Regions from separate parts of the Homo sapiens genome. Here region 2 is linked to region 1. The links come from fine-mapping of genetic effects on gene expression. A gene starts in region 1. The other region holds a variant in brackets. All regions are shown on one strand. Distances are between the middles of the regions.

Region 1 (5,388 bases):
AATTTAAAATACTAAAGAAAGTGGAATTAGCACATTGTATTGGCTAAAGCACTTAAGGTCTCTTAAGTAAGCTACATTAAGTGCATACCTTTAAATGCAGAAAAAATATATCCATTTCCTAAATCAATGGAGGTCAATATAATGGGTCAATATGAGGTTATTCATTTTCAAGGGATAAATAGAAACATACATTGCATATCCTAAAATAACGTTAAACCTTCAGTCTGTTTCCCAGTGAAGGACAGGACAGATTTTCTAAGAGATTGGACCACATCCAGTTTGGCCACCCAGCCGGAGTAAGAAATCTGCACTTGTTCAGTGTTCCCAGACCCACGTATTTTCTGTAAATACAGGCAATGTTACCAGAAACAATTTGGATCAACTGCAGAAAAAGAGTCATTCCTGATTTTTGTTGGTTATTAATTCTAGGTACTAGTCTTTTCTATTAGTAACTTTTCTTCCTACTACACGCCCCAAGTAATTAAGTAAAATGCCTAGAAGGCAGGTCTTGAGTTCTTCGTCTTGCAACACTAAGATTTATGAATCTAGTTGAGAAACTTGAGAGAGAAGGGGAGGGCGGCGGGAGGGGGTGTTGGGGGGTGGGAGGGGAAGGTGTGGGTGGGACAGACACAGAGGACTTATCTGTGCAACAGATAATCGGCTCCAAATAATTTTTTCAAAGTGCTCTATTTACCCGAGATTATTTGTTAGATGTTTTGTCGTGTAAGTTAATCAATACTTGTTGAATTGAGCAAGCAACTTCAGAAGGTTATATTCCAGGCGAAATATACACAGACTGACATTTCTTTTTCACTTTTCTTTCACTTAAAAATAGCTTTAAAATATTTGTTGACGCTTGTTACTTTTTACTACGCTCTATAGAAACAACCCGATAGTCTTCCATGGCAGGAGTAACCTCAAAAATGCGTCATGTCTAACTTTCAAAAGCAAAGCACAGTCATTAATGCACGGTTCAAGCAACCCAGAAGTCGATGTCGGATTACCACACCCCCTTCTAACAAATTACAAGACTTGGTTTGGTTACCTGAAAAGACTGTTGATTAACCAGGCTATAAACCAGGATGAAACCTTGGCCGTTTTTGATGTAGAGATCTCTCATGGAGGCAAACTGCTCAGTTCCTGCGGTGTCCAGAATTTCCAGCACGGAGGGGGAAGAGTCCACTTCGATCTCTTTGCGGTAGAAATCTTCAATGGTGGGGTCATATTTCTCAATGAAAGTCCCAGTGACAAACTGCACAGTAAGGGCAGATTTGCCAACCCCTCCACTCCCTAACACCACTACCTTGTATTCCCTCATGAGTCTCACCTTCACCAACTCCTACCAGAGGGGGGGAAAGATCACCCCGCTAGCTGTGGCGCGGCTAGACGAGGCGGAAGGTGGGCGGAAATCTGCGAACTGGGGAGGAGAGTGCAGAGGAGCAGAGGGCCCAACCGGGGAAGAAGAGGAAGTTACAGGAGGGGGAGGGGAAAGAGCGTAGAGTCGGGGAGGGTGGGGAAGGGATGGTAATGCCCTTCCTATAGGAACTGCAGCCCGAGCAGGGGGCGTGGGGAGGAGGGCGAGCCTGGGAAAAGCCCGGCGAGGGTGGCGAGGAGGCGCGTGCCCCCGGGAGGGAAAGGGTGGGGGCTGCGGCGAGGGGACCCTGCGGCGAGGCGGACGTCGGAGGAGCCCGCAGCCCGGGGCTGCCCGGCACTCCTCCCCCGCCCTTCACACAAAGGGGCCCAGGGACCCCGCTTCCTGCTCGCGCAGCCCAGCCGGCTCAGGCCTGAGGGCTCCGTTCCAGTTACCGCTGCCCGGGCGGGTTTCTGGGCCCCGGCTCCCGCGGGGGTCGTCCGGCCTGTGAAGGGGAGAAGGACGCACATTACCCGGCTGACCCCCGCCCCGAACCTGCGGCGCCGGCCGCCGCCTCCCCCAACTCCCACCCGGATCAAGCTACTGCCGCTTACCCCGCCGTCCGCACCCGCCCGGCCGCCGGGGAGGCTCTGTCACGCCAAGGCCATGGCCACCCGCTGGCTCCTCTGTCTCTCCGCTGCCCCAGCGCTGCTGCTCGCCGCGGGGAAAGAAGCGGGGGCCTTCCGCGGCGGCCGCAGGGACTCCAGGCGAACCCACCTCTTTTTTTTCTCACCCACCCCCCACCCCCACCCCCACCCCCACCCCCACCCCCACCAAGCACACACCCGGAAGGGTTTCCCTGACACACTGGCTGAGGTGCCCCAGTTCCCCGAGACTGGACGGGATCACTTCCGGTGGGGAAAGTCCCACCTCTTCGGGGCGAGCCGGGTGGCGCTGGAGCCGCGCCCTGCTGAGCGAGCGAGCCGGCCGGGGACGGTTTCGGGTCGGGACTCCGGCTTCGGGAACGGGCCTCTGGAAACCTGCGACGTCAGTCCTTACCCGCCCGCGGCTGCCGCGGACCGTCCCACCCCCAAACCCGTAGAAGCCCCTCCGACCTGCAACCTCCAGCCGCCCGGCCCTAGGACTTGAGCGGCTCCCTGGCCGGTGCGGAACCTGCGGGCTAATAATCTAGCGACCGGGAGAACGCCAAACATCCCTGGACTAGAAGTTGCAGGGGAAATCAAACAGCCCAGAAAGTTTATTCTCCTTGCTGGTATTTCTTCCACTTGCTATTTTGCTGAGAGATGCATGCAAACTACCCTTAGACTTTCAGATGCAGTGCGTTTTACTTAGCCGTGCCTGACAAACACACAGAACTTTTACCGTCTGGTAGATCCGCCTTGACTTTACCAGCGAATACTAAAGTCACTTAAAAAAAAATCACAAGGCTCGAAAACAGCAGCATTAGAAGTAGACTTTATGGTACTCTGCTCAGCTATGTTCTCATTTGATTCCAACCACTACACGGCAGAAAAGGTAACCAATATTCAAGAAAGATTTGATTGGAAACGGTTTAGGCCTAAAGACTAATTTATTTTAATCGTTGATTATGTATAACAATTTGCTTGGCTGGCTCTTACATGCTGAAGTTTTGTTTTAAAGGCCATCCTATGTAGTCTTTGAAATTCAAAAGCAAGTAGTAACTCTGGTGTTAGATTCTAAGTTTCTATTTTTAGATAAAATTGTTACTTCCGACTATCTTTCCCTTTGCTAGCTTTCTATTTGTAAACTTTGTGTCGGATCCACAGAGCCCCAGGGCCAGGAGTCTAGGCTGTATTTTAGGTGTGTCACTTTCTTTTCAATTCAAGCATGTACCCAGAAACCTGCGAGACTCAGTGGCCAGCCTAGCAAAAATGACTCCAAATTCCCTTACTTACAAGCCCTAAATGGCCAAACTCTATAAAGAGATTTATTACTCAGCCTAAATTGTTGGACATTAGAACACAGGCGAATCATAGTAGTGTGAGGTCCCACTGTCCCTCCCTGAGTATTCCCCAATGTCACTTACAGTCTTCAAAGGAGAGTTTAGTTCAATTTCTCCTTGACCTCAGGCCGGTGCCATCTCTCCAGCGAAGTCCCCAGCTCTGGCTCCAGCTGGCCTGGGCCCTGTGTCGTATCAGAGGCACTGCCCTCTGCTGGAAGGGGTTTGGTCTGTGAGTTATGAGTTTCCCCACAGGTCACTGCTCCTTTCACACGTGCTGTTGCCTGATTTGGAGCTCTGCTGCTCATCTCCCTGCCTAGCTGTCTCCAGACTGTCTGGTGGGATTCACAGCCCTCCACCAGCCGTGCTTGTAACTGAGTCTGGAAATTCCTCTTCTGATCCAGCCAGTGTTGAGCAATCGTGGCAAGTCTTTGCTCTATTACTAAACTGTCAAAGCAAGGAGTTCTTTTTCAGGTCATCCCACCTGTTGGCAATTCTAATATCTCTGAATGTGTTGGTCATGCTTAGGAGAGAGTTCTTTGTTTCTCCACGCAGTGAAACATACTCCTCCCCTCAGTACAGCGTCCTGTGGGGTCACTCTCGTCAACTACAGTGGACAAATATTACACTCAGTCTAAAGATCCTTCTAAACTTTCTTAGGAAGGGTATTCATTACAGCATTGATTAGGAAATCAAACAATTGGAAGAAGCTTAAATGTCCTTCAGTAGGTGATTTTTAAAAGTTTCATAGCTCTCTATATCTATTATCTATCATCTATCTATCTATCTACCAACCTACCTACCTACCTATCTGTATTCACAGAATAGGATATTATGCAGCTACTTTAAAAGAGAAAAGCAGATTTGTAAGTGTTTATATAAAAAGATGGCCAAGATATATTGTAGGGCTGAAAAAGCAAGATACTGAACAAATGTCTAGTTGCTACTGTTTATGTAAAACGCAGGTGTGTAATAGTTACATAGCCATTCAAATCTGAAACAAAGTAATTATGGGTGAGGACTATTATGAAATGGCTTTTATTTCTCCATATTTTAATTTATAAACAATAATTGGGAAAAAGGAAGTAAATATAACTTTATAATATTTTTAAAGGAGGAACAAAAGAAAGTTGTTGATCTTGGTTTTGTAAAAAAAAAAAAAAAAAATCCTGACTGTCTAGGGGTCAGTGGACAGGTCCGCCCAATTTAAACAAATTCCCTACCCTTGCTTGCCCTCCCCAAACATCTCTATACTTAGAAAAGTATTTTCACATACATTATCTCATTAGACTCCTGTTGTTTGCTAGTGTACTCTCATTAAGCAATGAGGGTATAAAGAGCAAGCAGAAGAGTGCGGCCTGGCAGTTGAGAGCTAAGGCTCTGAAATGAGACAGAGGTGCATTAAAATTGCAGCTCCGCCACATTCTAGCTCTGTGTCCCCAAGCAAGTGATTTCACTTGTCTGAGCCTCTAACTCCTCACTTGTAAAAAGGAGATAAGAAGTTAACGTGAAAATGTAATGAGGTATTACAGGTAAAGTGCTTAGCACAGTCCCTTGCACATTATAAAGCCTCAATAAATGCTATTTGGTTTTTATTTAAAAGATTTAATGAATTGTTAATTTTTAAAAAATAGCAAACATGGGGGTAACAAAATTTTAAAAGCTCAAATATCTGCAAGTGGCACGAAAATAATAATTCAGTTACTCTTCACAAAGATATTTATTGTTAAAAGCTTCTTATGTTTTTCAGGGGGGAACATTATTCATATGTCAGTGTATCAATCTACCTTCTATATATATTTTTAAAAATTACTGTACTACAAAAGTAATCAACTGTACACACTATTTTTTACCTTGCTTTTTAAACTTTAATTAATTAATTTTTTTAAGACAGTGTCTCCCTCTGTTACCCAAGCTGGAGGGCAGTAGCATGATCATAGCTCACTGCAGCCTCAACCTCCTGGACTCAAGGGATCCTCCCACCTCAGCCTCCCGAGTAGCTAGGACTACAGGTACATGCCACCACACACAGCTAATTTAATTTAATTTAATTTTT
Region 2 (5,388 bases), 27 kb before region 1:
AGAAACTGGTGGGGCAGGCCCGTCAGAAATATATTTGTATTGAAGGACTAAGGATCCTCCTGGGAGATAATTTATCCTGGAAAAAGAAAGAGGTATACAAACTTGGCCCAGTAAGAAAGCTTTAGTAACTAGAGGGGAGGGACATTTCTGAGTAGAGCACAGTGGCTGTCACTCGAGTTTGTCTCCAGACTTAGCACCACAGATTCAATGTCTGAGCCTTATGGGTATGTAAGAAGTTGTAGTCAATAAAAACAAAAACAGCTGTTTTACAAAAATATTTTGTCATTATGCACATGCATGACTGCTTTGGGACTGTACTAATTCATTCATTTTTTTCAGTCAACAAATATATTTATCTAACACCTGCTCTGTACCAGATACTGTGCTAAAAACGCTGGGGATGAAGCAGCAAACAAAGTGACAGAGCTTACATTTGAGTGTAGCCCCCAAAAGAGAGGCATTTTCTGCCACATCCTCCCAAATATCATATACTTGGACATCTATAGGCAGAGTTGCAGCTAGTCTATACTGTATCTGTACAAATTAGAAAATGGCACCTGCTCTAGGCAGCCCCAAATCTTGGTGAGGGAACAATGCACTCTCTGAGCAGGTGAATTAGAAATAGGTATGCATCTTCTCCTCTAGGACAGATTCAACTCCACAGGCATACTGCATGACAGGGGAACACGGGATGAATTTGACAACTCCTTGTCCTCTCAGAGAGACATCTCTTGTGCAGTGTGCAATCTGTACAACAGTCCATGGTGACCATGGCTGCAAGTCTCCAAGGTGTCAACAGTTGCTCTGGGCACAAGATAGTGATGCCCAGCACTAATTTTGGTGGTATTTTAGAAAAGCTACTACTAAGGGAAACTATTATTACTCCATAGAAGTAACAGCAGTTTCTACTGTGAATTACAGAAGCCAGCAGAGGCAGCTGATATCCAGTTGATGTGGTACCATGCCTTCCAAATGCAGCATTACACAGCGCAAGTGTCAGCTCTGCCTAGAAAATATAGCAATGCTTAGATCACATGAGAGCACTTAGAGGATATAAGCTGGAGCACAATAATGGGAGAAAGAAAACACAAAATCCATGTACTTATTCTGACACTACTCATTCATGACCATGTGTGAGAACCCCCCTAAAAACACCCAGAAAAAATTTATTGTGGTACAAACCCTTCGGGGGATAAAGGAGAAGGCAAGAACTAGAAAATGTGTGTGTGTGTGTGTGCGTGTGTGTGTGTGTGTGAGAGAGAGAGAGCGCGAGAGAGCGCATGCATGTGTGCAAATATGTGTATGCACAGGCAGCCCAGGGGCTTCTCTTTGCATTTCACATAAAGGATAGAGTCAAAATGTGTAGCTATAGCTTTCCAGCCTCTCCAAGAAGAGGGGTAGTTTTCCCTTGCGTAAAATAAAATCCATTTGTTCAGCTATGCAGAAAGAGTTTTCTTCAATATTGGTTGAGCGATTGAATTTAGATCCACAGTACTCAAAGTACTATTGATAGCAATATTAGGATATTTATATCTAGAATCTTAAGGCTTTGTTTAGATTTATGTGAGTTATTTGTATATTAAGAATATCAACCATTTAAAGAACTGCTGTTAAATATTCACAGTTTTTCCTAATGTGCTGCTTTTTATTAACAGACTGTTTTCTGATTTTAAAAGCAATATATGCTAGCCTGAAGAGTATGTAAAATTTACAAAGGAAATAAAAATTAGCCATAGCCCCACCATCTACACACACACACACACACACACACACACACACACACACACACAAATGCTATGTAAATAGTTGTTATACTATATTTTTTATTTTCATTATTTTATTGATATATATATGAATATATATCTGAATATATATATGAATAGTTTTGATCAGCAGTTGGTTGATTCCACAGATGCAGAACCCATGAATATGGAATACATGGTTATAGAGGGCTGATTGTATATACACATATGCAATCCATATCCACGGATTATGCTGCTATATATAATTTTGTGTTCTCATTTTCACTTAACCATATATATATACACATACATGTATGTATATATACGTATATATGTATATACGTATATATATGCATATATATATACAATCAGCCCTCCATATCCATGGGTTCCATATCCATGGGTCCTGCATCTGCAGAATCAACCAACCACTAATCAAAACTGTTCCCATAAAAAAACAAGAAAATAATACAAATAAAAACTATAGTATAACAACTATTTACATAGCGTTTGCATTGTGTTAGGTATGATAAGTAATCTAGAGGCAACTTAAACTATATGGGAGGATACGTATAGGTTATATGCAAATACTATACCATTTTATATCAGGGATTTGACCATCACAGATTTTGGTATCCACGGGGGTACTGAAAGCAATCCCCTACAGATACTGGGAGATGTGTGTGTGTGTGTGTGTGTGTGTGTGTCCATTAATATTGTGATGTTTTTCCATGCATACACACACACAAACACACATTAGGATTCTGCTGCTGTATACAATTTTGTGTTCTGATTTTCACTTAACCTTTTATTGAGAACATTTCCCCATGTCATATTGTATATTCTATAAAATA[T/C]ATTTAATAAATGGCTGCATAGTATTTCATTTTATCAATAGGCCATAAAGATTTTCTTTTCCTATTATAAATAACATTTCAATAAACATCCTCAAATATACATGTTTATGAGCATCTTTGCTTAGTTACTATTATATATTATTGGAAGTGGAATTATTCAGTCGAGTTGATGAACATTTAAAAGATTCCAGATACATACCACTAAAGTGTTCTCTATTTAAGGTTAAGCTGATTTACACTCAATGTACAGTCTTAGCAGTAGTGTATAAGTGCTCTTTTTACCCCATGTCTGTTAAATAATGAGGATTATCTTTTTATAAATATCTTTATTAATTTATTCATAATAAAATGTATGTTTTAGTTTCAGATAGTATGGCTGTCTAGGTATTTGGACAGATTTCTGCAGGCAGAAAACAGCTAAAACTGCTGGATAAAGCATATGCATATTATGCTATGTACAGTGTATATATATATACATATATAGTGTATATATGATATGTGTGGAGAAAGAGAATCTTGTTAAAAGTGTCAAAAAGCTAATGAGATGGAAATTACCAGGCATGGATCTAAATGAAGGCAGCAACCCAAAGAAATAAGCCAAGCCCTGAAATTTTTCCCTAAGGACATTTGCCAAAACAGCCTAATTTGAACTTTGCTCTTTTGTGTCTATGTGATTTATCCAGATATGGGGACAGAACATAAAGCTCAGGGCTCTACCAAGATGGGGAAACTAATTAAGAGTCCCTACCACCATAAATCCAGTATCCTAAGGGGTTATGTTCTCAGTGTAAAGGTGAACCAGAAATAAATACATATCCTCAGGAAAATGTAAGGAAAGTTTCTTTGTTGCCTATCACAGCTAGTTGATGGGAGAAGGCGAATAACCATTCCTGGTAAATTATAACCACAATTTAGCTCTTGTGTGGGTTTATTGCCCCACATTTACATTACAAGTGAGAACATGTGGTATTTGGCTTTCTGTTCCTGTATCAATTCACTTATGATAATGGCCTCCAGCTGCATTCATGTTGTTGCAAAGGACTTGACTTCCTTTTTTATGGCTGCATAGTATTCCATATATGTACCACATCTATGAAAATATCTTTGAATCTTGAGGATAAAATACAATTTTCAAACAGTCAGGGACTTTGCCACCAGCAGACATACAATATAAGAAATGATAAAGGATGTATACTACAGGCAGAAGGAATATGATTTTTGATAGAACATTTGAATACCAAGAAAGGTTGATAAGCAAAGAAAATGACAAATATGCAGGGATAAGGAAACTAACTACATAAAACAATAGTATCTTGTGGAGTTTCTTCAAAATAAGAGAAGTTAAGTACACAACAATGAAATAATATTTCACTGTTGTATTATTTGCATATTTTTGTTACCAGTAAGCTTGAACAATTTTTGTATGTAGCCATATATATCTTTTCTATGAAATATTTTCTTTGTCTAATTTTCTCTTGAATTTTTAAGTTTTTCTTTTCAATTTGTATGAGTTTTAAAAGATAGATTAAAGCTATCAATCCCTCATTTATCATATTTGTTACAATATTCTTCCAAGTTTTAAAAATCTAGTACAATCTAAAAATCTTTTGTTATGCCATCCATTGCTTTTAAACTTAAAAAGGTTTTCATTATTAGCAGATCTGACGAACAGTCTTTTTGGGTTTTTTCTATTGTTTTTGTTTAGTTTTTCACATTCCCTTTTTTAGATCCTTCTGGATTCTGTATTAATACATGCTGTGAGATGAAGCTCTAAAGAAGCCATGTTTGCTTGTTTTTGCTTGCTTGCATGATTTCACAAAGACCCTGACTCTGTGATAATGTGCACCTCTCTGGAAAGATGCTTTGAAGACAAAACAGGATAGAGCACATGGTCCCCCACTTCTCTTGCCTGAGATGTATATTCCTTAAAAGATGAATGATCCTAGTCCTTGCCTTTTCAGCACAGAAGATAACATCTGACTGGGTTAGTGATTATGCCTTTGTATTGATAACCATATGTACTTTATTTTTTTTTTTTTGAGATGGAGTCTAGCTCTGTCACCCAGGCTGGAGTGCAGTGGTGCGATCTCGGCTCACTGCAACCTCTGCCTCCTGGGTTCAAACCATTCTTCTGCCTCAGCCTCCCAAGTAGCTGGGACTACATGTGCACACCACCACACCTGGCTAATTATTTGTATTTTTAGTAGAGATGGGGTTTCACCATGTTGGCCAGGCTGGTCTCGAACTCCTGACTTCAAATGATCTGCCTGCCTCAGCCTCCCAAAGTGCTGGGATTACAGGCGTGAGCCACTGTGCCCGGCCCCAGATGTACTCTTATACCCAAACAGTTATATGATTGGAATGTAACTTCTGAGCAAGTTTAATGTGATTTTGCATGTACCAAACCCCTACCACCTATATATAAGCAATAGGCTGAAATACTGTGCAGGAGCACAGTATTTAGGCCTTGGTCTATAGTCCTCCATAAGGCTAAATAAGACTAACTTCATTTAAAAGCTTCATTTTTTTCTTTAGTCAACAATAGTTATCTAATTATCCAAGCACTATTTGTAGTATAATTTCATACTTCCCCACATATGTTAATACCTTCTTATAATGTGTTACATTATATGAACAAGAAATCTTTGGGGGGGTGATCCTTGTGTTTCACTGATCTGTCTGTTCATTCTTACAGTTGTGTCAACCTGTTTTAATTACTATAGCTTTGTACTATATTTTCATGAATGCTAAGGCTAAGTCTTGTGCTTACCATTACTCTTAGTTTTTCAAAT

Which allele goes with the higher level. Positions count from the first base shown, and alleles are read on the strand shown. Sizes are in standard deviations (SD) of each study's normalised expression.
For the expression in lung of the gene that starts at base 2,557 in region 1, C is the low allele of the variant in region 2 and T is the other (small effect, 0.32 SD a copy in GTEx).

Evidence for each region. PIP is the estimated chance that this variant, and not a neighbour inherited with it, causes the effect.
Region 2: its variant is fine-mapped to the expression of RAP2C-AS1 in lung (GTEx, PIP 0.95).

What each region holds. Positions count from the first base shown.
Region 1 is chrX:132,215,951-132,221,338 of GRCh38, forward strand. It overlaps RAP2C-AS1 (RAP2C antisense RNA 1), which reads left to right and starts at 2,557. Exons shown (of 3, transcript NR_110410.1): 1 at 2,557-2,887. It overlaps RAP2C (RAP2C, member of RAS oncogene family), which reads right to left and starts at 3,497. Exons shown (of 6, transcript NM_001271186.2): 1 at 3,420-3,497; 2 at 2,282-2,391; 3 at 1,966-2,062; 4 at 1,046-1,856. The coding sequence starts at 1,318. RefSeq lists silencers at 1,487-1,926, 1,937-1,986 and enhancers at 3,419-3,488, 3,819-3,868.
Region 2 is chrX:132,188,478-132,193,865 of GRCh38, forward strand. No RefSeq gene overlaps it. Among named protein-coding and RNA genes, the nearest start is that of RAP2C-AS1, 27 kb to the right of the region's middle. The variant T/C (reference allele first, on the strand shown) is at 2,597.